3 separate regions of the Homo sapiens genome follow, and regions 1 and 3 are each linked to region 2. Evidence: fine-mapped expression QTL. A gene starts in region 2. Each other region holds a variant in brackets. All regions are shown on one strand. Distances are between the middles of the regions. Region 1 overlaps CNTN4 (contactin 4). Region 2 holds the start of CNTN4 (contactin 4). Region 3 overlaps CNTN4 (contactin 4).

Region 1 (10,541 bases), 890 kb before region 2:
CACACTGATTATAGACCTGCTAGAAGGCCAAGCAAAAAGCCACTGTTAACTCTAAATGTTCTGCTTACATTTCCTCTCCCATAACCAGGAACCTACTTTCACCTCCTCAAATGGATACATAAAAGAGACAACCATTTTAACTTTTTAGAAATGGATCTTCTACAGTAAATCAGAGAGAGATGATGAAAATGTTAATTAACTTGCTTTCATCTTGGTCAGATTCTGTATTTAACCTAAAGGCCTAAAGTCTTTTGGGCAGTTTTCTTAAATTTGATTGCCTGCGACAGCCAAAGAAATTCAGTCGTGATTTGGTAGGACTGCCTCTTTGAGAGTTATACTCCTCCTGCCTCTGGCACAGAAAACAAATGCCAAAACAGGAAGGGGAGAGTCACTCATGAATTATTCTGACACGTCTCCTTTCTGATTCAAGCTTTATAAGAAACCAAGCTTTCCCTTTCAGACCTGGGACCAACTGTTGGCTCCCCCCATGGGACCACCTCTAACATACAAGGAGACAGATGATTTAAAACATACACATAGACATACCACAAACTCGTCTTCTTCTGAGAGATCATGTGCACATAAAACCAGTCTACATGACAAAGCATCATTCTCAAGCCACAGGAAGTTCAGATGTTTAGAGACAGAAGGTAAAAGTGCCTAAGTTTTCTTTTCTCTTTATTTATTACACAATTAGCCATTTAAACTCCATTTCAGCTATGGAAATTATTTTTAAAGACTCCATAGTTTGAAAACAACCTACCTTGAGATTTAAACATTTAATGAACTGAAAAGCTTAACATAAACCATTTCTTTCCTTCAGTAAAGGAATAGCTCTATGGCAGGATGACAGAAGGAAGATGACAGATGTACTTTAAAAAGATATGCACGAGAAAAAGATAGATTTTTATTTATGTATTTCAAAAATATATAACTGTAATAATGCTGAGGATGAGTTCAGAAGTGGTAGCAGAGCTAGGTGAGAGATCTATGCTTTTTAATATCAACTTCCTCTGGAGTAAGAATTTTATCGCATTCATAGCTAAATCATACTGATTATAAAACAGCTGAAATGAGGCAATTAGTATGGCCTATGACAGTCATGAAGAATGAAACATGTGAGGTTTTCAATGCAAGCCAGATGGATAGCTTCAATATATTTCTTATTATCTTCTTGTGGTAATAAGTTCAATTAAACTGAATCAGTATAACATAAGTCTCTTTGAATTGCTGGAAAAGAAATTAATTATGTGCTTCACATATAATGAAGCCAAAGAGTCATATTCTGTTTGCCTTTTTTGTTTGTTTGTTTTGTTTATTCTGATTAGTAAATATTCATTACAAAAGAATTCATTAATTCATTTTATAGGAGAGTTTTTTCCTTACAAGAAAGAAATTATTTGTATGGGATGGGTTAAATATCACCAGGTAAAAGGTGTCTCTTCTACAATATCTGAGAGAGAACTGAAAAAACAGACCTCCTGTCTGGATGGCTTTGCCTGCAATATCTGACCATGTAGGATTCTGACCTGAGGTATTCTTTTTAATTTGAAATATTTTACATATAAAACTACAACAAAAATTTACCAATATGTGCTCATATTCCCTCTTCCAGAATTAGAAGGCTTTAACACATTTTCATGTACCTCCAGCCTTTTTCCCCCCATGAATATATATTAAAAATTTACCCAAACAGATATTACCAATACAGCTAAAGTCCTTTCACATAATCTCACTCCAGGCATCCTCCCTCCAAATACTGAGTTAGGGCTTATGCCGCATGTGTATTCTGTATGCAAACATTATAAGGTATTATTTTATATTACTAATTTTATATTTAATCATACAATATATTAAATAAAATGATACCATATGTATTATTCTTTAATTTCCTTGTATTTTCTTTTCATTACAAACAACAACACAAGGAACACCTTTGCAAGTCTGCCTCAGAACACGTGTGAATCCCACTAGGTTAAATGCCCAGAAAATGGAATTGCTGGGCCATGGAGATTGCACTTTCTCAATTTTACTTGCTCTCCACAGTATCTATTGCAATTTCTATCCCTACTGAGAGTGTGTGAGTACCATTTTCCTCACATAGTCACCAACAAAAGGTACTGTTAGATGTTTCTCTTTTGCCAGTCTCATATGTAAAAAAATCACACCACACAGATGCTTACATTGCCTTTCCCTGATTATTAATGAGGTGATGTTACCACACAAGCTTCTTGACCCACAGAGTGTCTTTTATGCCAAAAGCAAAAATACGAGGCCTGTCTTCAGCATAGAGGCTTTGCTACGAAAGACAGAGTTGGCATAGAGAAATGTAACAGTTAAGGAATTACATCTTCCCTCTAGACCAAGGATGGAGAAGTGATGGGCAGGCTGGAGTCAGGGCAGACTGTCATGGTATGCAATCAGCATTACAAAAGGAGAGAAGGTTTTTACAGAGAGATTTGGACAAAAGGGGAATCATTCTACTCATGATTGATATCGCCAAAGGCATGTTATTTGCTCAATCTACGTGGCTCTCACACATGTCCATAAGAATGTCAGAGGAAATAATCACACCCTGTTTCATCAGATTTCCAGGTTATGTCACACGCTTTGTGAACACAGGAAGAACAAGATGCACAATTACCTACCCTTCTTTTAAGATTCTCCTACCATAGCTGGTACCAACTCCAGGGTGACAGATCTCAGATCTAACAGGATCTAGTATTGAAATGTTCTGGCCAGATGTTCTTCTACTGAGGGACCTACCATAATTAGCATTTAGCACTTCTAATGACAAACTTTTCCTTCCTACTCTAGATGCCTAGGGTCACAATTTGTGTTAATCCTATTAGAAATACCCTTAATTATCACCCAGAAATAATTGGTTCCAGTGGAAGATATCTAATTGGGTTGAAATGTATTCAGTTATAAGGGACCAATGTTAAAAGCTTTTGTTGTGTGTTAGCAGCCAACCGTCATTGTATGTTACTGATTTCTGATTGATCCCCTGTCAAATCTGTATAAAGCCTTGAACAGTTTTACATAGAAGATTGGGCTGCTTCAAACTCATTTGCAAAATAAAGTTCCAACTGAAAAGACTCTACTTTATTGCGTCTATTATGCTATGCATGGAAAGGTTGATATTTCCCAATGTCCTACAGTTAAAACAGAAGAATTTTATATAGTGCGCAATAGTAATGCTGTAGATACTCTTTGGTGCTGGTACAAATATATATATACACACATATATATATATATATATATGAAAAAATCTGTTGATTTAAACATAAATAAACTTTCTATGGGGTGAACAATGAGCACTCTTTCTGGCAATAAAGGAATCCGTTAAATGCTCAGCTAAACCACAGGAACCTTTTCGGCTTGTAGGGTTGAAGAATGAAAATACAAAATAATTTCTTGTTACGTGTATCTGTGATCTTAGTCAATTTCCACTAAAGACTTCTTTTCTATTAAAGCTACTTAAAGTATAAATTTATTTTTTCTTATTATAAAAGTAATTCTATGCACTGAATTTAGACATTTAAATAAACAGAAAAGCCAAAAGAACTCTTTTAAAATCCAGACAGAATTAGGGTAAAACTTTATATAGTCAATTTCAAAATAAAAAAAAATTGCTATTAGAGGAAGAACATGCAGTCTGAGAATTATGAGGTAAAGGTGGAACAGTTCTGCTGATTTAGGCTGGTGACGGTGGGAGGTTTAGGAAGAGAGAAGTGTTTTAAAAAAACACCAGGTCATGTGCTTCTTACTTTAGGGTCTTCTTAGCTTACTATTCTGGTTCCAGCTGTGTGAATCCTCCCCACATGCTGGAGAATCAAATTGAATTATTGTTCCAGTGTCTGCCAAGTAATTTTCCTCCTCCCTCTCAATCAATGATTTATTATCTCTCCTCTGGATTTTCAACTCGTATCCAAGTTCTAAAGTCAACTGTTTGGATACTGGGGTGAGGCTAAGGTCCTGGGAAAGAAAACTCCCTACCACTTCCAGCTAATAATCAGACTCAAGGACATGTGGAAATTTCCAGCATGCAAGATCAGCAGGGGTACAAGAAAAGTTGTGTATAGCTTGGCCAGACTATACCTTGGACAGAATTTTGAAGATCTGAGGAAGAGAAAAAGTTATCAAAGAGAGGATAAGTATTTTTCTTTTCTGTGAAGGACTTACTAGTAAATATTTAAGGTTTTGCAGAAGTGGCAAAGTTGAGGATATTATATAGGTACTTATATATTACACAGTCTCGGGGGGCGCAGTGGCTCATGCCTGTAATCCCAACACTTTGGGAGGCCGAGGCGGGCAGATCATCTGAGGTCAGGAGTTCGAAACCAGCCTTGACCAACATGGTGAAACCCTGTCTCTACTAAAAAATACAAAAATTAGCTGGGCGTCGTGGCATCTGCTTGTAATCCCAGCTACTAGGGAGACTGAGGCAGGAGAATCGCTTGAGCCCGGGAGGCAAAGGTTGCAGTGAGCTGAGATCTCACCATTGCACTCTAGCCTGGGCAACAACAGGGAAACTCCATCTCAAAAAAAAAAAAAAATTACACAGTCTCTGTCATAATTACTCAACTTTGCTGTTGTAAGGCAAGAGCAACCTTAGTTAATATGTAAAAAAATGACATGGCTATGTGACAACAAAACTTTATTTATGGACACTAAAAGATGAATTTCATAAAAGTTTCATGCCCAAAAATATTATTGTTCTTTTGGTTTTTTTCTCAACCAGCTAACATGTGAAAACCATGCTTAGCCCCTGGGGTATATAAAACAGGTATGGATTTGGCCCACAGAGCATAGTGTGAAACCCCTGAAAATGCAATGTTCTAAACTCTGATGTGTATAAGGATCAATTGGGGTATTTATTTTAAATGTAGGTTTTTCCAGGCCTCCTCCCTAGGAGTTAGATTTGTTAGGGTAGGAGTGAGGCCCAGGAGATCTGCACTTCTAATATGCACTCTACTGAACTGTCACTTGCTAGGTGGCATGCATGTACGAAGTTCTTTGGTGTAGGACAGTGTTTCCCAAAGTATAGTCTGGAACCACCAGTTGCAAAATTGCTCAAGGTCAGTTTGGATGTAGTTCAGCACGATGACTATGTTAACAGCATCCACAGCATACTGCCCTACATTTTGAGTCCTGGAGATAATCAATAGGAGTGAGGGTTGCTATTAACATAGTTATCTTGTTGAACTACATCCAAACAAATACTCTAAATTGCTCTTCTCTAGGACTGCTACTTAAAAATATCTGTCATATGAAACCTGTATAGCAGAGGCACT[G/A]TGTCATGCAAAATCCCCACCCACCACCACCCCTTTAACTCTGCTGTAGAGATAAACATGATTTAGTAAGTACAATATTGCATATAAATGTACCCTGCCCTCTGTAGAGTTCTTAATGATGTCAATGATCACAAAAGCACATTTTTGTTTAAAGGTCTAACATTATGCTTTCTGTGAGTATTTGAGGGTTTGACTTAAGAACTGTTCTTGCTTAAAATGAAACAGCAAACCAAATCCCAAGTATATTATAACTAGCCTGAAAAACAAAACCAGTAAAATTTAGGAATTCAGATGATGGGATGATAATCAAGAGCCCCCTGGGCACCTGTCAGAATTCTGCAGTTTGGGAGCCTGCTCATGCAGAATCTGAATATTTATTCATGTGATGATTGCTTGTCAGAGGTTTATTCTAAACCTCCTGTATCTGGTGGAATAGATGTGCCACCTCCCTCTCCTCCCCTACCTGCTGACCCTGTGTTTGACACTATCTTCAGCCTCTCTCCGAAACATGGGGGCAAGGGTAGGGAGAAAGAGAATTGGATTTTGAAAGCATGGTTAATGATAGAACTATTGTAAAAAGGTTAGAAAAGATATGTTCTGACGCCCGACCTTCACGGTGTTTTAATCCCAGACACATGAGGAAATCGGAAAGAATACAAGCACATTTTAAGGTTACAGAACACCTTCTCTGATAAATTAGTCCCTTTGTAGATCTCAAAATTGAATTAAAATACAGCGCTCAGTCATATTTCGGGCTAAGCTGTTACACTTGCACTAAAGGTGCAGGGCTCAAGCATTTTGATGTGGGATTCAGGACTTGGCACAGTTCATGCGGAGTTCAGAATGGTTTTCTCTGCCTATATCGTGCTTTATGGGGCAGATTTTTAAATTATATTTCTCAGTTTATGTTAATGTCCTTCTTGGAGACCTCGCACTGTGGATGGCCCCTCTGCAGACACACGTACTTCCCATTAATGCTAATGGGAGTGAGAACCAACCACACTGGGAGATAAATGATCCCCCAAATCTCTTCTGACCTTATCTAAAGTAACAGGATTGTTAACTCCTGAGAACATATTGGCCAAATAAAACTTTTTTCCCCCACCTCACCTAGAAGAAGAATATAAGAATCAGAGGACCTCTGTGGAGAAACTAACTGCAGCTCAGAACCAGGAGCCACTGCCAGAAATAACTCTGCTTGGAAACACATGAATTCTACCTGTCAATCAGGCTACCTGGGCACATCATCCCTTAACCTCATGGCTCATACCTACACATCCCTGCCTTCCTCTTTTTGTACTGGGCCAGGCTCTTCCTACCTCAGTCCCTCCTCGTTCTCTCACCTATTAGGAAATTTCAGTTTTTAAAGTGTTGTGCATGTTTCAGCGAATCATGTGGCTAGCATAGGCAGGACATACTAATTCTGCATCTATAAGTCCACTAAAACTCTCCTGGAAATTGTCCTCAAGTCATGTTTCCTAGTTTTAGACATTCACATATACCATCTTCATGATTTTTTGCATATCCTCCTATAACAATGCATATTTAGTACTTTTCTTTGTACCGACTCACTTCTTTACGTAAATTTATTTTGAAATATTGTTGTTATTATTGCCGTTAGTGGAAAACTAGTGTTCTCCTAATATACCTTGAAAGAAACAAATAGTTAATAAAATTTTAAAAAATTGTAACTGTAAACTGCCTAAAACTATATCCTATACTTACTTGGGTGAATACTTGTTCACATTTTACTAGAAGGCAAGAAATAAATTATTTTGTTTGTTAGAATAGGTAGAAATTACTATCTTAGCAATATTTATAACCACACAAAAATGAGGCAACTATAACGTATTTAATCCCTGATATATTTGTAGGCTTTGCATCGTGATTCAGTGTAAGATGAGCAGCAGGGATCTGCACAGTTGGTTGGGAACGGTTTTGTCCTGGGGCTTGTGGTATCACTGGGATGCAAACTCTGATGGGAAATAGAGGCCTCTCCTTTCTGCCAACTCTTGGGAGAGCCAAGGAAGCCAATACTTATAAGAAGGATGATAATAAAATACAGAACATACCTTGTTCCTACCTGTGAAAATACCCTACTTTTAACAATATGAGACACCATATATATGGTTTCTATGCTTAGCTGTTTTGAATCTTTCATATTCTTAGTCATTTCTTTATTATAGGCTCACTTCTCTATGCTAATTATTCTATTGGGGTGGAAATATCATAAATGTTCATTTCAACAGGATTTAGAATACACGCATATCCATTTGAAAATATATAAACAACAAAACAAATACTAATATTTCTTAGGTGCCAGACACCCTGTTAATCGCTTAGCATGGATTACCACAGTCATCAGAACAACCTCATTTTATGAAAACATGTTTATAAACAAAACAACTATTAATATTTCCTAGGTGCCAGGCACCACACTAATCACTTAACATGGATTTTCACAGTTATCAAAGCGACTCCATGAGACTGGCACTGCTATTATCCCCACACAGGCTAAGTGTCTTGTCTAAGAGCTGGTAAGTGGTAGAAATGAGACTCAAATCCAGATCACTCTGACTTGAATCCCTGTCTTTTAACTATGATTTAAGATGTCAACCTAATATTCTCTTATATCTCCATAATTCACAAATAATCTATAACAGATCCCAGCTCTGTGTCTAACCAGCTCTGAAACATTGAGATCTCTCTTGGTCCTAAATGATTACTAAACTTCCTTTAGCCAAGACAGTCATACATTAGCAAAAACCTCTAGCTAGAACTGCACTTTACAAATATTATCTAACCTCTTTTTCCTTTGCCTATGAAACAGAGTGAACAAGCAGTCAGTCATACACTGATGCTAGTGCTCTGAGGAAGTAATTAATAGACTGAAATAGTTGTAATCAATCTAAACATATATTTAGTTCTAACTCTTGGACTTCCAATTTTCTATCTGCATGGTCAAGTATGTTAATGATAAAAAGACTTCCCAAAAGAGTAGTACATTTCCAACTTCTAATGACCCTAAAATATTTAATTAGGTAATTTTTAGCTTTCTTCTTTAAATTAAAGGCAAATTGTTTTTTTTGATATTTTTATTTGCCTTCATCTGTCTTCACCAAGGGAACTACAAATGGGCAAGAAGGAAATAATATGATATGACCCATCTGTATAAATTACTCAGAAACAGGAAAGGCTTCCTGTTTCCTGGTGCAGCATAAAGGACCAAGAAGAACTCAGAATCAGGATCTGGGTTCAGGTCTCCTGCTACTCGTGACCTTGAGAGAACCACCAACCTGAGCCTCATCTTCTTCAGTCAAATCATTGTCAAGATCCCTTCAACTCAAAAATCCTATGACAGGGCAATATATAAAGTGAAAGAAATGCAAATGAAATGTAAATTAAGATTTTCTCCTTTTCAATGGTTACTTAGCACTTCCAGCCCATGCCATGAAGCTAATATTGAAATAGTTTCACTCACGTGCTTTGCTAAGAGCATAAAGGACTTTCTGCTACAAAAATTATAAAGCACCCAGGCTATGGTATATGGGAATTTTATTTCCTTAAAACTGACAAGGTTGGCTGGGTGACTAAGGCAAAGCATAGAGGTGATCAAAGCCTTCTATTAGTATAATAAGCCATATCCATATCTCTGAATAAATGGGACAGCTATCTTAAAAATTACCAATGTCATTGTTTAAACAATGTTTTCTAAAAATAGTACATGAGTCTTGAGTTTTTAATTTGTTGGAATAGTGTTCCTAGACATGAATTTCAAATCTATAGAGACTTGAAAGAAATTTAATTAAAGGATTGAAGATAACATTCGTTACAATACTATAAGAGATACAATGGCTATAATTCTCAAAATTGTATTGGATGATTCTGAAATAAGATAGCCTTTCAATCATATTCATTACCAGCAGTTTTCTAAGAATTATTAATCATATCATGTTTGCCGTGATGAATTAATTTAGCAATACAGTGGTATCTGTACATATTAATATGAATGATGCCACTTCGGTAGATTACATTATTAGACACGAGGACACATATATAAATATTCGAATTCTTTGGGTTAGCCATTACCTTTCACTACCAAGTTTCCAGTACTGCTAGCAGTTCCAAAATGGTTAGTGGCTATACAGGTATAACTCCCAGCGTCTGATTTAGTAACGTTGATGATTCTGAGGTTTCCATCTTCAGAAATGGTAATTCTGAAATCAAAGTAAATGAACCAAAAATGGTGAAATTTATCTCATATGACCTATTGCAAATTAGTTCTGTCATTCTGTCATTGTTCAAACCATAAATCATTGCTACATTATTTGTAGTAAAGATGACAGCCTCATCTTTATTTAGGGTATTTGTCCACATATACATAAACATAATTGAGACATGTGACTTGTTTAGTGTTTTTAATTCTTTTCTTGCTAAAATGGTCTCAACAGTCAGTTGGAATAGCCATTATAAATATTAGACAGGTTGTAACGATTTCTCTTTGGTAGCTCTAACCACATTAGGCAAAGGGAAGGCTTACGGTAGATCACCATTAGTCTTATAACTGCTAATAAGGAATACGAAAAAATCCCTTGATTAATCAATTTAAGTCTTTTCATTGAAAGTGTTTTTTTCTAAATGAGAGCCTTAAATTAAATGAGGTATTATTAAGCATATTTATTTCTGAAATATGTCAGCCAACACATTTTTAATGAGATGTAAAAACTGAACTTAAAAAAAATTAAAATATTCCACGACTCAGCGTGACTTTGGCAGAAGAGCAAATGTGGATGGCAAACCTCAGGCCCCACAATTAGAGACAAACATCTACTTTCTGCAGGGAAGAAAATGTTTTTGTTGACAGATGCAAAATCTGGAAGAGGAAGAATTTTGAAGAACTCTGTTTTCATCATGACTACCAGAAGAGAAGTAGGAAAATACAAAGATGAATAAGACACACAGCTTGGCTTAGAGGCTTGTCAGAGAAGTAAAAAATGTACACAGATAGCTCACTCAAGGTAAATGTCTGTTAAATTTCTCTTTTATTTCAGATCTGCTCACATCTTTCCATCCCTTTCACGCCCTCCTTCTCACCTAGTCTATCAAAACAGCCTCCTAATTGGCCTGCCTATTTCTACCCTTGTCCCTCAAATCCATTCTTCAGTCAGTGGCCAGATGATCTTTTAAAATTTAAATCCGATTATATCACTCTCCTGGCTTAAAGCTATATCCTTGGCTCTGCCA
Region 2 (10,541 bases):
AGACAAATACATAGGAAACATAAGATGAGGCAGATTCTCTAATGGAAATGGGACAACAGGATGAGAACAAGAGGGACCATTTTCTTTTAGACGGTACCTGGGATATATATACAGTCCCCTTAGTCATATAGAAAATAAAGATAAATAAATAGATAAATAAAAAATAATTTTGCAAAGCTCATAGGAAAAGAAGAGGGTTTCCTTTCTTGGAGGATGGGGATATTGATAAAGAGCAATACCTTTGATCAAAAGTTAGGAGAGGCTATTTTAGCTGAAAAACCTGCCAGGGAAGATATTTGTTTCTGCTGAGAAGTGAAGAGGAATTTATCCTCACATACTGAAGCATGAAAGTGGTAGCGCAAGACTCCCACAATAGAATCTTCAGAGGAAGGTTATAATTCAAGGCACAGACCCTGAAAATGTGTTTATCACAAATGAAAGAGCAGTTGTAGTGGTGAAGGGTGTGTAAGTGGGGGGAGTTACTTTAAATATCTGCTCCTGATCCTGGTAGGTATTCAAGATAAAGCTGTATCATATCTAATTCCATTCCAGTATGTTTTGGATTATATCCTTTTTTTCTACTTTAGTATTTTAAAAAATTCTCTTGGCAACTTTTTTATATATAGGCAAAAGTAAAAAGCGGTCCAGTGGCTTAAATAAGAAAAGTATTGAGGCAAAAGCAAAAAAAAAAAAAGCTGTTAAAAAATCAATTCTGGAGTGAGAGAACCTGGTTCAGATCCCAGCTCTGCTACTTACTAGCTATGATGAACAAATAACTTAATTTCTCTATGCCTAGTTTTCCTCATCTGTACAATAGAGATAATATTAGAAGGGCAAAGTAGGGCAATGTGCTTTAAAAAGTATCTCAATAATAGTAAGCATTATGTATGTATTAACTGCTTCTATTATTATTTATTGTATCCATTCCAGTTTTTCTACCAGAAAAAAAAAAAAGCAAGGGTTAGGAGAAGAAAAGGAAGTAACAGTTATTGAACATGGAAGAAATATCACATATAGTAATAAAACATCAGAGAATGCTAGTTGTTCCCCCAACAATTTCTTCTACTTCCTGGATAACATTTCTAGACTATATTTCCCAGCCTCCTTAATAGTAACGTACATCCACAAAGAACTGGGTTCTGGCCAGCACAATGCAAGGAAAAGTAATATGCACTCATTCCAGTTCTGGGCAATTAACATCCTCCCAAGTCTTCCTCTTTCCAATGGCTTGATGCAAGTAAGCACAGTGACCCTGCTGAAGACGGCAAGGGCACAGAACAGATGAAGGCTGGGTCTCTGAATCACACTTTGAAGGAGTACTGCCATGATCACCCATTCTGGGACTTCACACAACCGAGAAATAAATATATTTCACATCTGAGGCAGTATCCCTTTTGGATCTGTTATATCTGCTAAAGAGCCAATCTAAAAGAGCCAAGCTCTTGACCCATGTTGACTCATGCTCTCATGTTTAATCCCTATCGTGATGCCGTGAAATAGATGTTATCCCAATTTTATACCTAAAGAAACTAAGGCTCACAGAAATTAAGGAACTACATTGCCCAGGACTGTAAATGTAATAAATGATGGTGCCAGACTTAGATTCAGGTTAATCTGCTTCAAGGTTTATGAACTTTCCAGCCTCCACACAACACTGCAATGTGGAAAGTGTCCTTCCAATCCTCCCTCATTTACTCCTTGGATTCTTCACTTCCTGACCATTGGTACTTAGTCTTTAAACTAAAACTCCATTTTTTAAAATTCACCTGTATGTCTACTTTGGGAGATCTAAGATGACATCTCCAAAACACATTCATCCTTTACACCTCATTCTATCCACATATGAGTCCATGAGAGGAAAACAAGTGTGCTTAATCTATTTGTTACAGAAGATATAGAAGTGTAGCAGTTTTACAACTGGCTAGAGTATCAGAGATGATGAACAGCAGAGCAGAGATAAGGAGAGAAAGATTTTAAAAATATCAAACCAGCAGTGATCTTTAAAGTGTGCTACACACCCCAGGGGCTGTACAAAATGATCCACCGGGATACATAACAGCAACATGAGACCTTCTATTTCATAATTTTTGCTTTATTCATCTTTTTTGTTTCTTTGTGTGTTTTATAAGTAGTGTATCATATAACAGCATGTCTTCAGTTTATAAATAAATTTTATTGATATGTTGTCAGATTTCTTCTGATAGTAAATAATAATAATAATGAAGATCAATAAATCTAGGCAGTAAATCCTGCCTCCTTGCCTCCTTCACTAGGCTTAAAACATAGCATTACAGGGAAAAATGAACAAAAAGGAACAAAAAAAATCAGTGTGTAGAGACTTCCCCCTGCCTATCATATGAAATAGACTTATTCAACTAAAATAATATAAAAGCAAGTTTTTACAAAATATTAATTTTTAAGATAAGAGAGATTGAAGCTAATGCATATTATGTCTGTCCTCAAATATAACAAAGAAGAAACAACAAGTTAAAATCATGATCAGACAAACTTGTAGAAAAGTCAGTACCATGCATGGGAATTTTCTGCTGAGCAGCTTTATTTTTTTAAGACCTAAATTGAAGGAACGGATGCCCTGTATACATTTCAGAAGAAAAACTGCAGCCAAAAGATTTAGTGCTTAGATCGGAAAAGAAATCAGAAGACCTACTTTTGAACAAAAAGGAGAGAGAAGTAGGTAAAATAAGTGAATGATAAAAAATCCAACATCATTTGAAAGGTTTGTTCTCTAATCACTCTTAATTACCTGCCAATATGAAATGACCATGGAAAAAGGTACTGCATTGACTCCCAATTGACTTGAAAAGTTTTACAACTCAAAGAAACTGAAAAGTGTTGTTTAAAAAACTGCAAATAGGAAAATCTACCTCTGTTGAAACTTACATGTGGCTCTGACATGCACCCTTATCCAAGTCACTTCTCTTAGACTCTTAGTCTTTAATTGAAAAGGTCAGTTTTTCCATCCTTGCCAGCTACCTCCCAGGGTTCAGATGGAAAAATAATGACGTTTATCAGCATCATCTCTCCTCAACAAGACAGAGCAGTTGAAACCAGCTTCAACAAACAAATCAATAGCTATTTTATAAGGTAGCAAAAATAATATTCTCATGAAACTTGTTTTTGATCCTTAGCAATCTTACCTACTCCTGCGACCCACTGCAGATATTCCCACAAAATCTTTAAAGAAATCAAGATAAAAATAGCAAGAATAAACTTACGGGTAACGTGAATTTTCTCATGAATGCCACCCAAATCACCTCCAGGTGCCTGTCTTCATGACACACTGTTCTTTTTCACCCACTTGGGTAGAGAGAGAGAAAGAGAGAACAAACTTGCTATTAGGCAGACTTGGGAACGCTATTGTATGGACCTGCTCATAGGCAACCTATACAGTCTTTACGCTCCTACCCCACTCTCTAAAGGACATAAACCAGAAATCTCAAAAAACAAAAAAATACAAGCGCGTTCCAAATTATCTTGTGTGGGTATCCAAACGACTCAGTTATGTGGAGTTACTCCTTGAACTATCCAGCTCCCACTACAGAAAATTGAAAGAGCTTCCCATGCAGTTAAATGCCACTGTTATTCTGACAAACATGTGCCCGCCCCTATGTTGATTCCAGCAGGAAAACTAGAAAAAGTTCCACGACATTCCTTTCAGGAACTCCTCTTACAAATAAACCTCCAACACACCTCAAGATCCGGCCCACTCTCCTCCACGCAGACCACACACCCAGGGTGCTCAGTCACACTGACTCGCCCTACACAACCTCCGCCAGCTTCTTCGCACCGAATCTGCAGACCCTGGCCAGCAAGCAACCGCCTGATCTTCCCGACGCGCGAAGCCGCCTCCTCGCAGGAGCTTCGCTGCGAAATGTTTCCATGCAGCCGACTCTCTGGCTGGTTCAGAGGGATTCAGGAGCCCACGTCCTCCTACCCTCACCTCCACACCCTTCATAAATAGTAAAACATATACACGAAGCACAAGAGAGAAAATGCACGAAGATTTTGAGCCCCGCGTTCCAGAAGGAGAGTGAGTGGATTGGGGTCTGTGGGGCGCCCGGCGCACAGTTCGCCGCCGTCTGGGCCCGGGGAGGGGACGGGGCGGTTGTCTTGCCTCTCGAAAGAAACTGGAAACCCCCCAGAAGTTGCTGGAAACGAATGCCACCCAACAGGCTCCCGCGGCAGAGACTGGGGAAGCCAGGTACCTTCCCTAAGAGCAGGCACCTGGCCTGTCGCTCGCCGCCGCAGCCTCAGCGCTCAGCAGCCAGCCCGGCACCCAGCGGGCGCCACAGACATCAGCCTCCGTCTCCACGCGGCTCCTTCCACCACGGCTACGGGCTCCTGTTCCTTTAGTCCCAGGTCCCTCCACTCCCCAGGTTCGCGTCCCTCTGCTGCGGGCTGTGACTGGGCTGTCAGAAGAAAAGCCCCGCCGGGAACCCGGCGCCAGAGGCCAGGGCGCACGGAGAGGGGGCAGTAGCCCGAACCAGTCGGAGGAGCTGACTTGAAGGCTTCCCGCAGCATTCCGGGCTCTCGGTTCCTTGTTTTGTGGCTGCCTCGCAGCGCAACAAACTTATTTTCCGGCTGAGAAGGAGAAGAAGGGTCGCTGTGGGGTGACGGTGGCGTCGTCGGGGCCCTGAGTCCTCCGCGCTCAGGCGTTCAGCTCCCGCTCCCCGACCCTGCAGGGCTTCCGGGCTCTGAGCTGGACGGCCCCGCAGACGCTGCCCGGCCCCGCGGGAGTCAGAGCCCCGGGAAGCGCCCCTGTCCTTCGGGCAACCCGCGCGGACCCTGCCCTTTCCCCCCCACACCCGCGACCGCGTCCCCGGGGCATCGCGCGCCCACGCAGGAGCCGGACCCGCACAGCTGCCGCCTCACTTACCTCAGCACCGGGGCGCCGGGCTGGCGAGAGCCTCGGGTGCGGCGCCGGCACAGTCCGAGGGGCCCGGGGCGGCGGCGAAAGCTCCCTACTTGCAGCCAATCCTGGCGTCGAACCCCGGGCTCCGTCTGGCGCGGCGCTGCCCTCCCTCCCGGCGCTCGCGGCGGCTGGAAAAACCTGGCGCGCCGGAGTTCGGGCTGCCGGCTCCTTAGCCGCGGGGCGGGGGAGACGCTCGGGGAAGGGGAGAGGCGCGGGCGGGTGGGAACGGGCGGGAGACGAGCGGGGACGGGGAGACGCGCCGGAGGCCCGGAGCCCGCGCATGCTCAGTGCGCGGCCGGAGGAGGCGAGCGCTGGGGACGCAGCACCTGCCCCGCGCGGCCGAGAGGCGGCAGCCCCAGGTCCCCAGCGCGCGAAATTAGTAAAGGGCGCCTGGCCCGATTCTCAGGCAAGAGGAGATTATCAGCCGGATTCCCGTGCGGGGACGTAGGGGTTGCGTTGTTCAGCGGCCAGGGATGCGCCGAGGCGATGTCTCCTCCCTTTACAACCCGAGTATCGGGGCACGAGGAGGCGCGACCTTCCTGGGTACCCAAACCTCTGGCCTCCGGGAGACGCGGAATTCGGGGGATCGTTAAGGCGCCCTGGCCAGGGAAACAGATGCTTCTGCGTCTGGGCTGAAAATTGCTGAACCGGGGAATGTGGGTGGGCGGGTGGCATTGAACTTAGGCCAGAAGAGGGGGCTTTGGTAGGTTTTTACCTGCCTGTCCTTAGGCGGAGGACACTGGCTGGACAGGCTGCGTTACACACCTGAAGTCTCATCCACGCAAAGTGCTTTCAGGTTGGAATGTGGGGCGGGGGCGGGGGGAGGTCAGAGGGAACAGTTGCTGTAAATTAGGTACAAGGATCAATTTGTGGTGTGTTGTGCGCGGGGGTGGGGCATGTCGAAAGCCTTGTTATTCGAAAGAATGTGCTTTGAACGACGTTGCCACGGTCATTCTACATTATGAATCTACTGTTTCCTTGCAGAAGTGGCTCCCTTCGCCGCAACTCCACACCTCGGGGTAACCGTAGAGATTGGCAGCAATGCCCCAGCCCCTCACCAGCACTGTGCAAAGTGACTTTGACAGGCAGAGAAAAGCCAACCCAGTCGAATTCGTCTGGAAAGCATTCCAGCAACCCAGAGAGGAGCCTCTGTTTCTCTCTCTGGGAAAAAGCCCCAAGGGTTTTGCTGAACCCAGGTCTTCCTGCTCATCTCTCAGCAGTTCAGAGCTACATAAACAACTTCTGACCATTTACGCAATCATGTAAACCTACCCTGACATCTCCACTATGTGGAAAAGATGTTAACTGGAAAACTATTTTTAAACTACTGCAGTAAGCAAATAAACATCCAACTCCAACATATATATGCAGCAGCCTTATTAGTTCATTCAGTGTTGGTTTGGTTTGTTTGTTTTGTCTTCTGCTTTTTAGAATTAATTATTATCTTTATAATTCCTGTTCGAGAAGTGGGCAAAACCAGGCTAGTGATAGGTATTGTTGTGGTCAAATTTTTCATCACTTGAAATTCCATGACTTTCATGATTGCTGAGATTAATGCTAAATAAAGAAGTTACCCCCCCGCCCCCACCCCACCCCAACCTCCCCACCAAAGTTTCCTGATTACTTAAACTTGGAGAGAAATTTTCAGGCTTTTTCCTCCCTCCTTGCCTGGTATGTGTCTGTAATAGAGGTACTTTTGCAAAACTGGAATGTTGGTGATGCAGGTGTTTTCCATGGTAAACAGCCACTGAGGATCAATGGTTCCCAGGTTCCCACTCACTTTGAAGGCTTTTGTGCTTCTGCCGGAACTGTGACTTTTACTACCTGTACTATGTATGATTTTTTTTTACATTGATTATTTCTCTGCAACTAGTCAATTAAAAGTACATATATATAACTTTTAGTAAGACTGTTTATCAAAATATGCTTCACCAGAAGTTCTCCAGAAAATATTCCTGTGTAGTCATGCATACTCCTAACACATTAAAGGGAAATGTCGTGTTTTAGACTGGACACAGAATTTCAGAAAAGAACAAAGAATAAAATATGCTGTCACATTCTCCCACTGGGACTATACATTGAAGCAATTTTCAAAGTTTTATGACAATTTCAGGCAAAGTCCCTTAACTGTGTTTCTAAATTTCAAATGTACATATTTTGTTTCCATTCTCCCCTTTGGCCCTTATTCTGTGCCTGCTATATGCTAGGCATTGTCTTCTAGTAGATTCTGGGAAACAAACTAAACATGACCAAGACTTGCTCCACAGTTCACCATGTAGTTAGGAAAACAGACATTGTGTATCTGGAGAGACAGATTTGGGTCGTGTTGAGGGGATATCAGTTAAACGTTAAGTTAGGAGGAGGCATTTTTTCTTTTCACCAACACACCCCCACACTGATCCAGTGCTAAGCTTGTTCAGTCCCTCCCCAACATTTTCTCTAGAACAGCAGCTAGTTTAAAATGCAGCCAATAATCCAGTCCCTTTTTTCCATCCTGCAGCAAAGAAGCGATGCTCAGCTGCCACCTCTGCCAAGATAGAAAGCCTCTTGCGGAAGCTCCCAGGATTGGGGAGTGTTCCTAATAGACTCAACCCCTGTCAGGGGACAGAAATGGTTTATTTTGATGACAACAGCCTCACACGTGTGTCTCTACATATCCAGGACCCCGACTGCGTGTCCGTTTCTTGATCAGGGGACCTGTGATTGGGATTCTCTGGAGGGGAATGTTCCAAACGAATCAATTAACGCCCCCAGCAGCAAGTTCAATACCACTGCACTGAGACCCAGCTCTGTATCATTGCATGAATGAATTACTGGTGCTCATGTAATTTGCAAATAATCATCATTCTAACACAGTGGAAAATTTCTCCTGCCCGTTTAGCCTGAGTAGCAGCTGAGCAGAGAGCTGCAATAACCCTCACAACACCCTCCAAAATAACTATTTACACATATGTGAAGTTTTACATCCAGGTCTTTTAATATGGGAGTATCTACATAGACACAAGGTCACCTCTTACACTCATTAAACCAATTGAATGAGGACTGATAACTCTTAAGGGAAATCAACGCTGAAACCGCTTTTGACTTTTTGGAGACATGAATGGAATACATCATCAGGTTTTACTCAGCATGCAACCGTTGTGCAAACTCCAGAAAGGGCATCTCTCTGTCCCACTCCCCCATTACCCCTGCCTTATTCCTTCTCTACACATCTGAAGATTTGATAAGTGGGGATTTACTGTAAGAGGAGGAAAGAGGAAAAGCATCACAGGAAAAGAAATACCTCTTTTCTGACCACATCTGATTTGATGCTATTTTCTCCTTACTCCTGGCATCCAGTGGGATTTTAAAAAACTCATATATGCCACCTTTCTTTGTTCTAAATGACTTGAATAAGGTCGTTCAATGGCAGGAGCGACTCAATCAGATAAAAATGTGCAGGTTTTATAATTACGGTTTTACTTGTTTAATGTATAGCTACCTGAATAGATCTTCAAGCATAAAGTAGCAATTATCCCATCCCTGATTTTAAAATATAAACTCAAGTTTGCTTTAATTAAGTAGATAAATCAGTATTTAAATAAACAATTGTATCAAGAAGAGCTTTGTGTTCAGTTTCGAACTGGAGTATAATAAAGTAGAACTCAGCTAAGGACTTTCAAACCAGCCTTGCAAAGCTTCCTTCTATGCAATTGTTTTAGGTGACTGATTGACACTTAAGCTTTAAACTAAGGACATTGGACTAATAATGGGCCCATACTGGGATAATGATAATTAGCACACAAAAGCACAGTTAATTGCCATGAAGGTTGGACACAGACTGACAGATAGAGTCAAAGTAAACTAGAAACCTGACACCCCAGCCAAGATTCCTTTATAAACGTGGCTGTGAGACACCCACTGAATTTAAACATAATAAGGTGGAATTAGGGACCAATCAACTGTTTTCTTAGCCACACGTTTTCCAGATTTTTTTGGATTCTTTATACAAAATCCAAAAATAATTGTTCCAAAGGTCTATTAGTTGCAAAAGTATTTATAGTTGATTTCTGATGTCCTCAGTAATTATGTTCTATAAAGTCACTGCAAACACTGGAGACAATAAAGGGTTATGTTCCTGACAGCCTCTGGTAACAAGATTTTCATCAACTGATAAAGATACCTTCTTTAATATATACTGTTGATTCATTAACATAGAACTCATGGCCTGCAGCACTGTAATTCTTGCCTGAACAAAACTTATCTAACACATGTATTTTCTCTGTGAGGCACATCACAGCTTTCTTTTGCTTAGGAATGCTAGACAGCACTCCAGCACTGTGCTCGAGGCCATTTTAAGCAGCAAAATCACCAACAGAAAAACCCAAAATTTGAGAAACATGCACTAAATATACTGCAAAAAGGAGACTTTTTTAGAATATGAGAGCTGAAACAAGAACACAGAGCATCACTTTGTTTGATCTAAGCTGGGAATGTGTGCATTGGGCAACTACAATTTTTATTCTCTGTGCATCTACAAATACCTCTGTGCGTCTACAAGTGTCTACTCAAGTGCCTTAAGTATTGACTTTGGAGTTATAAGTAAATTTCAGTAAGTGGGCAAATTCACAAATATGTTATCTGTGAATAATGAGGGTCAACTGTACCAAATGTCTCCTTTAAACGGCCACATCCGCCCATATGGTATGCGATTCAATTTAGAGACATTCAATTTATACAGAATTCATCAAATCATTTATCTTTTCATCTTATCCTAAACAATTTACATTGTATTCACATAACTGTAATTACATATTTTCTTAAATATTTTCATTTTGTTCATGTTTTTAATATCAGTTTCTTCATATTCAATGTGTCCTGAACTTTTCTCTATCATTCAATAGTTATATATCCCCTCACTTTTAAAAGCTGCTTAATATTCCATTTCAGAATATACTACAGATAATCAGTTCTCTATTGTTGAGCATTCAAGTTGTTTGTGTTCTGCTATGATAAATAACTCATTGATAAATACACTGATGTTAAATTTTACACACATTTTAAATTATTAACTCAGAATAAATTCCCAGAACTTGATCTACTAGGTCAGAAAGGGTATTAGTCCATTTTCACACTTCTAATAAAGACATACCAGAGACTGGGTAATTTACAAAAGAAAGAGGTTTAATTGGACTCACAGTTCCACGTGGCTTGGGAAGCCTCACAAGCATGGCGGAAGGCAAGGAGGAGCAAGTCACATCTTACATGGAGGGCAGCAAAGACAGGAGAGAGCTTGTGCAGAGAAACTCTGGTTTTCAAAACCATCAGATCTGGTGAGACACATTCACTATCACAAGAACAGCATGGGAAAGACCTGCCTCCGTGATTCGATTGTCTCCCACTGGGCAGCTCCCGCAACACATGAGAATTATGGGTGCAGACAGGGAGTCAAACCATATCAAAAAGTCTTGTGACTTTCCTCATTCATAATTATTAGATTCTTTCTGGTAGATATCCATGATCAACAATTAGAGGTAATGAGGGCTCTAGGCCTCATCCTCATCACCCTCAAAATAATGTAGTAAATTGTAAGAAGAGATAATTCAAGGCTAAATTCTGCACACATAAC
Region 3 (10,541 bases), 320 kb before region 2:
ATTGCCCCTGCTTGCAGAAGACATGATTGTATATTTAGAAAATCCCATTGTCTCAGCCCAAAATCTCCCTAAGCTGATAAGCAACTTCAGCAAAGTCTCAGGATACAAAATCAATGTGCAAAAATCACTAGCATTCTTATACACCAATAAGAGACAAACAGAGAGCCAAATCATGAGTGAACTCCCATTCACAATTGCTTCAAAGAGAATAAAATACCTAGGAATCCAACTCACAAGGGTTGTGAAGGAGCTCTTCAAGGAGAACTACAAAGCACTGCTCAATGAAATAAAAGAGGACAGAAATGGAAGAACATTCCATGCTCATGGATAGGAAGAGTCAATATCGTGAAAATGGCCATACTGCCCAAGGTAATTTATAGATTCAATGCCATCCCCATCAAGCTACCAATGACTTTCTTCACAGACTTGGAAAAAACTACTTTAAAGTTCATATGGAACCAAAAAAGAGCCCACATTGCCAAGACAATCCTAAACCAAAAGAACAAAGCTGGAGGCATCACGCTACCTGACTTCAAACTATACTACAAGGCTACAGTAACCAAAACAGCATGGTACTGGTACCAAAACAGAGATGAAGACCAATGGAACAGAACAGAGCCCTCAGAAATAACACCACACATCTACAACCATCTGATCTTTGACAAACCTGACAAAAACAAGAAATAGGGAAAGGATTCCCTATTTAATAAATGGTGCTGGGAAAACTGGCTAGCCATATGTTGAAAGCTGAAACTGGATCCCTTCCTTACACCTTATACAAAAATTAATTCAAGATGGATTAAAGACTTAAATGTTAGATCTAAAACCATAAGAACCCTAGAAGAAAACCTAGGCAATACGATTCAGGACATAGGAATGGGCAAGCACTTCATGTCTAAAATACCAAAAGAAATGGCAACAAAAGCCAAAATGGACAAATGAGATCTAATTAAACCAAAGAGCTTCTGCACAGCAAAAGAAACTACCATCAGAGTGAACAGGCAACCTACAGAATGGGAGAAAATTTTTGCAATCTACCCATCTGACAAATGGGTAATATCCAGAATCTACAAAGAACTCTAACAAATTTACAAGAATAAGTCAAACAACCCCATCAACAAGTGGGCAAAGGATATGAACAGACACTTCTCAAAAGAAGAAAGACATTTATGCAGCCAACAGACACATGAAAAAATGCTCACCATCACTGGCCATCAGAGAAATGCAAATCAAAACCGCAATGAGACGCCATCTCACACCAGTTAGAATGGCGATCATTAAAGAGTCAGGAAACAACAGGTACTGGAGAGGATGTGGAGAAATAGGAACACTTTTACACTGTTGGTGGGACTGTAAACTAGCTCAACCATTGTGGAAGACAGTGTGGCCATTCCTCAAGGATCTAGAACTAGAAATACCATTTGATCCAGTCATCCCATTACTGGGTATATACCCAAAGGATTATAAATCATGCTGCTATAAAGATACATGCACACATATGTTTAGTGCGGCACTGTTCACAATAGCAAAGACTTGGAACCAACCCAAATCTCCATCAATGATAGACTGGCTTAAGAAAATGTGGCACATATATACCATGGAATACTATGCGGCCATAAAAAAGGATGAGTTCATGTCCTTTGTAGGAACATGGATGAAGCTGGAAACCATCATTGTCAGCAAACTATCACAAGGACAAAAAAACAAACATCACATGTTCTCACTCATAGGTGGGAATTGAACAGTGAGAACAGTTGGACACAGGAAAAGGAACATCACACACCAGGGCCTGCTGTAGGGTGGAGGGAGGGGGGAGGGATAGCATTAGGAAACATACCTAATGTAAATGACGAGTTAATGGGTGTAGCACACCAACATGGCAGATGTATACGTATGTAACAACCCTGCACGTTGTGCACATGTACCCTAGAACTCAAAGTATAATACAATTTAAAAAAAGAAGCTAAACTACCTCTTTTATGAGAATTTTGAAAGGAATTTTGACAGCCATGTTGGTGTGCTACACCCATTAACTCGTCATTTACATTAGGTATGTTGCCTAATCAAAAAAAACCCCCTCCCTCCACCCCACAGCAGGCCCTGGTGTGTGATATTCCTTTTCCTGTGTCCAAACATTAAAAGGCAAGAAAATAAGAACTATTACTCCCACCATAGACCGGAACGATGTTCGGCACCAATTAATTCAGCAGTACTTGACAGAATTTATGTATGGTAAAACTACCCAGTAGGAGGTTTTGTAATTAACAGGGTATTAAAAGAGAGCAAAAAATCAGTTTTGGAACAGATGATGCTACAAAACTACAAATAGCTAGATAGCAATCTAATGATTATCCAAGTCATCAAAACTTCTACTTTAAGTAGACAAATACTGGACTTAATATTAGCAAAACCAGAGCAAATTTTTCATCAACATCTTTTCTCTTTTGTAGTGAATTTAAGGTACATTTTAGTCATGTTTATTAATGCATCTATTTTGGGCAAAAAGGATTCCACAGAGGCACATTTGAAAAAAAAAAAAAAAACAAGTTTTCACCCTGTCTTTCAGAAACCACTGACTTCCTGCTTGCAGCATCGAGAAGTGTGTCTGGATGAGCATGATCAATGTTCATTAAACGCACTAAACTGACAGGTACACAAAATGGCACCACATGTTTGTGCATCTGAGCTTTCTATAATGAATAAATGGAGCGTGTGATCCCAAAGGCAGCTGCACCAGCCATAACTTTGTATTTGACACTTGACTGCTCTTAGAAGTTTGTTTGTCAAAAATTGTCCATTTGGAAAAAATAAAGAAAGAAAGGCAACAACTTGTGAGGCTTTCCAGAGGGCAGTTACACAAAAGCTTCTTAGGAACACCACTTCTAGGAGTCAGACTGTTCTCAGATGAATCAATTATTTATTTAATTGGTTATCAGTTCATCACTGTTGAAGTTCATTCTAAGTTCATTCCACTAAAACAACGCAGTCGCTTTACATGCTAAAACCCTAAGTTAATGTGAAAAAGAGGGCAACTAAAGCCAATGCTGCTTTTTCAGTTTGGCATGGAAATTCAAATTCGGCACTAGACATCCAGGACAGGTGGCAAACAGGAGTAAAAGAAATTTAGTTCCTGGACAACACACCACTAATTAATTTCCAGGAAATGTTATATCTCATTACCTGATGGTCCCTCCATGTCTACATGTGATAAAGCAACCCTTTGAAACCATGCCACACTCAGGCATTAGGGGAAACAGAATATCAGCAGCTCTCTCTTTATGTCAAAAGATCTCTACACTATGTGACAAAGAGCTAAATGTATTTCTTTCCAATTCTGAATTATTTTAAGGATGTACAGAGATTCAGGAAATCAATAAAATAAATTCTTGTAACCCATCCAGACCAGAAATACCAACAATCTATAGGGAAGAAGGAATTGGCAGTGAAGACCAGCTTATAAAGCAATGGCTTTAGATATAAGCACTTGATCCAAAACTTTGCTTATTTTCCTGATATAGGCTGTCAGGAATCCAAATAGTGCTCACTATTACAAATCATTTAGAACTTCTAATTGAGAAGGTACCTGTGGCTTCTAGAGGCTGTGAAAATGACAACATCTGTTTGGAGTTGGAAGGAACATTGCACACTATCAAATTCAGACATCCCATTTTATAAAAAGCTCTAAAGCCCAGGTCTCCTAACTCCTGAACTACTACTGTGTTTCTACCATGGAAATGTCTGGAAAGAGGGGGAAGGAGAGTTCCTTAAATGTAACTGGTATTGGAACCCAGGTTAAGGAGCAGGGGATAACACAAATTGACTTCAGAAATTGGTCTGCATTCCTCTATGGGCAGTGCTCTAGATGTGGTTAAAACCCCTCTCTAATTCTGTACAACTTCACCTCTGGTGAAAGCCACTTAGTGACACCTTGTGCTGCCTTTTTATTTTACTATTTTATTTTCTGAGTACGGAAAGATAAACTTATCCATAAAAGCTAATTACAGAGGCAGGATTAAATAGTGGCTAGGAGTACAAAATCAGGTACACTAATTTTTTTTTTTTATGAATGACATCTAAAAGGAAGGGAAAAGTACAAATTCTCTCCCAGACTCTTACTTCCTTGTGTGTTGTTGAGCAAATTATTTAATCTCTCTGTGACTAAAGTTTCTCCTTAGTAGAATGAGAATAGCATTGTTAGCTCAAAAGATGAGTTTTATTGCAGAGAAATATTGTAAAGTACTTAGCATTTTTTCTAACAAAGTAAATATTCAATAGTCAGCAATTGTATTACAAATGGTCTTGGTGTTTGCCCTATTTTCAATGAACAGATGTTAGAGTTTGGGGAGAACACATATGTCATTTAATAGAATGCCCAGTGAAGATGTGAAAAGGGCTTCAACTACTGATTGTCTGGTGCTATCCACTACAACAGAGAAGAAAAAAGAAATCAAGATAAACAATATGAAGGCTGGGGCTGGGAGCGGTGGCTAACATCTGTAATCCCAGCTCTTTGGAAGACCAAGGTGGGCAGATCACTTGAAGTCAGGAGTTTGAGATCAGCCTGGCCAACATGGTGAAACCATGTCTCTACTAAAAATACAAAAATTAGCTGGGCATGGTGGCAAGTGCCTATAATCCCAGCTACTCGGGAGGCTGAGGCAGGAAAATTGCTTGAACCCGTGAGTAGAGGTTGCACTGAGCTGAGATCACGCCACTGCACTCCAGCCTGGGCAACAGAGCCAGACTCCTAGTCAAGGAAAAAAAAAAAAAAAGAAACCCCCTGAAGGGTACCCACCCTAAAGCTCACTCCTAGTCACCTCTAATGCCTCACAAGAAGGCATTGCTTGTTATGCAA[T/C]GGTGGTCATTAAGGTGATGGGGGAGGGCTAAACTGGGACTGGAATGTGAAAAATGTACCTGAAGCAAGGACTCTTCTGCAGACTCTTTCAACAGGGCATGTGTTTGCCAGTTGGGTGTGGGGTGTGTCTTAGTTTGAGTTTTCCCAGAAGCACATGTGTACTTCAAAAACAGGGCAAACACTGGGATCATTTAAAATGCAACTGCTGGGTCCTGAACGTTTACTTTATTAGGCAAAACGTGAAGTACATTCTTTCTCTGACAAAATACGGCCATCTCTTGAGGTAAGCAGTGCTATGCCATTTTACTGATCAGAAACGTTAATCACAGAAGCAGACTCTAAAACAAGTATTACAGTGTAACTAGTTTAAGAAGTGCAGGCCAGAAAGAAAATGAGGAAATGACAAGGGGATTGAAGGCGTCCAGTAAAGAACATTTGGCCAGGCGCGGTGGCCCACAGCTGCAATGCACTTTGGGAGGCAGAGGCAGGCAGATTACTTGAGGCCAGGAGTTCAAGACCAGTCTGGCCAACATGGTGAATCCGTGTCTCTACTAAAAATACAAAAAATAGGTGGGCATGGTAGTGCATGTCTGTAGTCCCAGCTACTCGGTAGACTGAGGCCCAAGAATTGCTTGAACCTGGGAGGCAGAGGTTGCAGTGACCCGAGATTGTGCCACTGGACTCCAGCCTGGGGGACAGAGTGAGACTCTGTCTCAAAGGAAAAAAAAAAAAGAATTTTCTATTCAAGCAGTGAATATAGCAGGCAATCCTGCAGAGAAACTCTGACATGACATAAAGCACACCTCACAGAGTTATCCCACCAGAGAGGTGAGAGAAGTTGGTATTTATACAGCACCTCTTGAGAGTCATTAATTAAGAACTATTCCTAGAGGGTTTTCTTTCTCCTTATATGAAGCTCACTTGTGCATATAAGCAGTGCAATTTCCCACAGTTTTTGGAAAAAGTGCTGAGGAACAAACCTGCAGATACTAGGAGTTAGAAGCATTCCTCAGAAACACAATTAAAGGTCTGAGGCATATGGATAGGGCACTGACAGCACCAGCTGCAGGGAGTCACAATGCTTGCTTGTACTATTGCACTGTATGAGGAACAACTTCTAGCAAATTCCCTGACTCTACATGCCAGACTGTCTTCCAGATGTCATGTTGCCAATGACCGTGGCTTTTGGCAGCATCCACACCTGGGACAATTCGATCTGTAACTAAAAATTACAGTCATCAAGCAGAGTAATTATAAACATTTAATAGTCTGAAACCACAGGGAAATAAGTATGTGAGCTGATATATTTGTATATGTTTGCATGTATAGGGAAGGAAAAGAAAAATGGGTCCTGGAAACCACACACATTTGTATAAACATGATTATTCCTTGAAAGACATGGTAAACTCATTTAATACAAGAAGGCATTTGGTTTTCTACAGGTTTCCTTAACATATTCTTTGCTTCCTCATCATCTTCTGCATGACACTATGTTATGTTTGTTAGTGGAAGTAAGTTTTAAAAACTGGTTGAAAATTTCATTTTAGATTTATTTACACAATGCTATTTGACATTTAAATGCTTTATCTTTTAGTTGCAGACTTCACTATTCGCAATGTTACCTTATGTTATCCATATTACATTTCACTAAAATGCCAGCATTTTTTGAAACATTGGGCTAGAATGGACTTACGGGTATCAGTTTATTCTGTACCCTGCCTAGGAACAAATAAACGTTGAATATATCCTGAACACATGAGAATCTCCAGAGGTAGATCTCCCCACTCCCACCTCTTTATTTCTTGATAGAAGATTCCAAGTTCTTTATTAACTCTATTCCTAAAAACTATAAAGTCTTAATAAAGTTGAATGTTCTAAGATACAGAAAGCTACATTAGAGTGGAATGTTACCTATATTCATTCGAGCTTTTCATCCAATATAATTTTTGGTATGTAACTCATGTCAGGAAATTACCTGGTATATGATTGATTACTTGCAATAATTGGAATATAAACTATTACTCAAAGCCACTTATATTTTCTCTCATAAGGGGTATCCAATTTTTAGAAATTATTTTTAAACGTGAACCATATAGCCATTTAACTTCTACCAATTAATCTTACTCATGAACCCTGGAGCTAATTTTAAATAATTTGACTTTTCCCATAAGATTCTGAGGAAGGCCTTTATCTTTTTGGGCATCAGTGCCCTTGTCCTGGCATGAGATCCAAAGCTTTTTTCATCCTACGGGTTGTAGGATTCTTTCCTTTCCTGGGATTCTCTAAACACAATAAAAATACAAACATCTAAATACAAATATCATGAACTGTAAATTATTCCCTTCTTTCACAATGCAAGCCAACATGGATTTAAAATGTTACTGATTACTTTCATCAATTCAATGTCCCTGATATTGTTTTATGTATTATTTTTTCTTAATATAACACCTTTGTTCTTTTATATATCAGAAATGCTGAAATATTTCCTTTCCTATAAACCCTGGATGTGCTTTACAAAAGTGAAACCTTTTTACTGATTCTTTATTTCAGCTTTATCAGCAGTTATTAAATAAAGAAATGCAATCGCCAAATTACAGCCTTATGCTGACACTGGACCATGTTAAGTAGTGTATAACAGAATCAAAAGTAAACATTTGCTACTGGGGCAAATTCTATTGTATCTAATGATTGAGTATCTAATGATTAGATTGATCTAATTTTAGTACCTGGGCTGTGAGCAGTTTTACGTTTTGAACCCTATGTCTTAGTTAGCATTTGTAAATACTTTCTGTGTATTATTTTGAAGAGGTTGTTCTAATCTCACATTTTGCCTCTGTGGTGATTTTTTAACAGACTTTATTTTTTCTAGGCAGCTTTAGGTTCACAGCAAAATTGAGGGGAAGGTGCAGAGATTTTCCATATATGCCTGCCCTCCTATACACACAGCCTCTCTGAACTATCAATATACCTCACCAGCGGTATATTTATTATCATCAGTGAACCCACATTGACATATCATTATCACCCAGAGTCCGGAGTTTACATTAGGGTTTACTCTTATGTTTTACACTCTATGGTTTTGGAAAAATTTGTAATAACATGTATCTGTATCTATCATTATAGTATCATATAGATTAGTTTCACTGCCGTAAAAATCCTCTGTGCTCTATTAATCTCTCCATCACCCCAAATCCCTGGCAACCACGGATCTTTTTACTCTTCCCATAGTCATTCTACCTTTTCCAGAATGTCATATAGTTGGAATAATAAAGTATATAGCTTTTTTCCCAGATTGGCTTTTTCACTTAGTAATACACATTTAAGTTTCTTCTATGTCTTTTCATGGCTTGATAGCTCATTTCTTTTTAGTGCCAAATATTATTCCATTCTCTAGGTGTACCACAGTTTACTTAACCATTCATCTACTGAAGGACATCTTGGTTGCTTCCAAGTTTTGGCAATTGTGAATAAAGCTGCTAGAAACATCAGTGTGCAGGTCTTTATGTAAACATAAGTTTTCACCTCCTTCGGGTAAATCTCAAGGAGTGTGATTGCTGGATTGTATCATAAGAGGATGTTTAGTTTTGAAGGTTCTAATCTCATTTTATTAGCTAGTTTATTACAATCACTCCCCTAGAGGTCTCCTGGCAGGTTATTAAAATGAGGGAATCGGAATGAAGCAGAAATTCACAGCCTTTCTCATGACCCCAAAGTGAAGCAGGAAAGAGCTCAGTGCAAACTCAGTATTTCTGAATCCAAATCTTGATTGTGGAATTGAGGTTACTGTTTTTGAAACCAGCTAAAAATAGGTAATCAATGTTCCTGTCTTGTTCTCAATACATTAGAAAGAATACAAGACTGAAGGGACTGGATTCTGGTCTAGAATTTTTCACCAACTGTCTACGATGATACAGTCCAGCAGTTATTTATCTGTAGTTGGATAACTGCTGGATTGTTTCATCATTTTAAGCTTTAACACTGACAAAAGAGAGGAAGTGGAGAAATGGAAGTAAGCTAAATGAAAAGCAGATGTGCTTCTGTCTGGTCCAGGACAGATAAGTACCTGAAGGGAGCGGGCAGCATGTCCCACACTAAGGGAGCTGAAGCCCTTATTTATAACCAGTCTGCCAGCTCTCCACTGAGAAGGTTAATTCTCAAACTGTGAGACTTCTGCTAAACAAAGTAACTCTTATACCATAGAAAGTTGCGACACTGGGCCGGGCGCGGTGGCTCACGCGTGTAATCCCAGCACTTTGGGAGGCTGAGGCAGGTGGATCACAAGGTCAGGAGCTCGAGGCCATCCTGGCTAACATGGTGAAACCCCGTCTCTACTAAAAATACAAAAAAATTAGCCGGGCGAGGTTGCAGGCGCCTGTAGTCCCAGCTACTCGGGAGGCTGAGGCAGGAGAATGGCGGGAACCCGAGAGGCAGAGCTTGCAGTGAGCTGAGATCACACCACTGCACTCCAGCCTGGGCGACAGACAGAGACTCCGTCCTAAAAAAAAGAAAGTTGCGACACTGGAAAGCCCTCTGATTTTTGTTACATCACAAGTCATACACGATTTTCAGAAGCAAGAGTGGCATCTGGAAACTCCAATGAGGAAACATGAAGAGTCAACAAATGTAATATCCACTAATGAAGCTCAATATTCCATTTTGGGGAAGCCTCCTACTTCAGTGTGTTGATTTCCTCATATGTAACACAAGATGGTTAGATTACCTCCCAATTTTCATTTCTGTATATTTAAATTACATTTTACATATGTTATATAACGCAGATATTCCTACTATCTCCAATTTAAAAATGAAAAACTAATGGCATTGATAAATTAAGTAAATTTTGAAGGTCACAAAATTACTAGGAAAAAGTTAATTAGGGCTAATGTAAAGTGACACAATCTATTAAACATCAAATTTAAGAATCCTATTCTTTTATGGAGGATGCAGGTGGCCTGTGATATGGAATGATCACTATGAGGAAATAAGCTTATAACTTATTTTAAAAGTTCTATTTTATTACCTAAAACCATTGTCATATATATATATATATTTCTTGCTTCCCTAGATTGTTCACTCTGTGAGAACATGGCACACTAGTATCTTATATGTCTCTTAAAAATTCCAAAACATGTAACCAAATGCTTATTAAATGGCTATTGATTGACTAAACAATTCTCATGCCAATTCACCTTATACTGAAATCTGCCCGGTAGTTAAGAGTATTAGAGCACAGTAAAACAAATGTAGGTTATAACTTTGGTTATTAAGCTTCTAGAGTTGTTACTGAAGGAGGAAAATGTGCTGCAACCAAGAACGCTAATAAGCCAGCGCCACCCCAAATCCCAAATCAAAAACCAAATTTAAAAAAAAGGTGAGAATAAATAAGGCCAACATCAACCTCAATAGTGCAGAAATGGAGTACTTTATTGTTTAGAAAGTTTCTGAAACTTATAGAAATCATATTATTAATAGAAGAATAAAAGAAAAAAACTTAAATAGGAAAAGGCAAAGGAAATTAGCAGACCAAAGCCAAACACTGGGTCCCACAGAAATGTATACCAAGCAAACGTACTTTCTGTCTTACACCTACCATTGAACTAAAAATAATGTGGTACGTTTAATACATTTTCTTCTTTCTTATAAAATGACCCATTACATCCCTGTCCCTGGAAATGTTATGACTTTT

The links. PIP is the estimated chance that this variant, and not a neighbour inherited with it, causes the effect. A credible set is the group of variants that fine-mapping cannot tell apart.
Region 1: its variant is the best candidate, but not a certain one, in a credible set for the expression of CNTN4 in atrial appendage (GTEx, PIP 0.78).
Region 3: its variant is the best candidate, but not a certain one, in a credible set for the expression of CNTN4 in thyroid (GTEx, PIP 0.68).

Annotation. Positions count from the first base shown.
Region 1 is chr3:2,987,318-2,997,858 of GRCh38, reverse strand. CNTN4 (contactin 4) reads right to left here. Exons shown (of 25, transcript NM_175607.3): 14 at 9,387-9,514. Among named protein-coding and RNA genes, the nearest start is that of CNTN4-AS1, 69 kb to the left of the region's middle. The variant G/A (reference allele first, on the strand shown) is at 5,298.
Region 2 is chr3:2,093,335-2,103,875 of GRCh38, reverse strand. CNTN4 (contactin 4) reads right to left here and starts at 5,010. Exons shown (of 25, transcript NM_175607.3): 1 at 4,898-5,010; 2 at 3,237-3,318. It overlaps LOC124909338 (a long non-coding RNA gene), which reads left to right and starts at 5,621. Exons shown (of 2, transcript XR_007095785.1): 1 at 5,621-5,729; 2 at 5,918-6,295. RefSeq lists an enhancer at 8,447-9,054.
Region 3 is chr3:2,415,483-2,426,023 of GRCh38, reverse strand. The region is part of intron 3 of CNTN4 (contactin 4); the gene reads right to left. Among named protein-coding and RNA genes, the nearest start is that of CNTN4-AS2, 280 kb to the right of the region's middle. RefSeq lists an enhancer at 7,024-7,193. The variant T/C (reference allele first, on the strand shown) is at 4,856.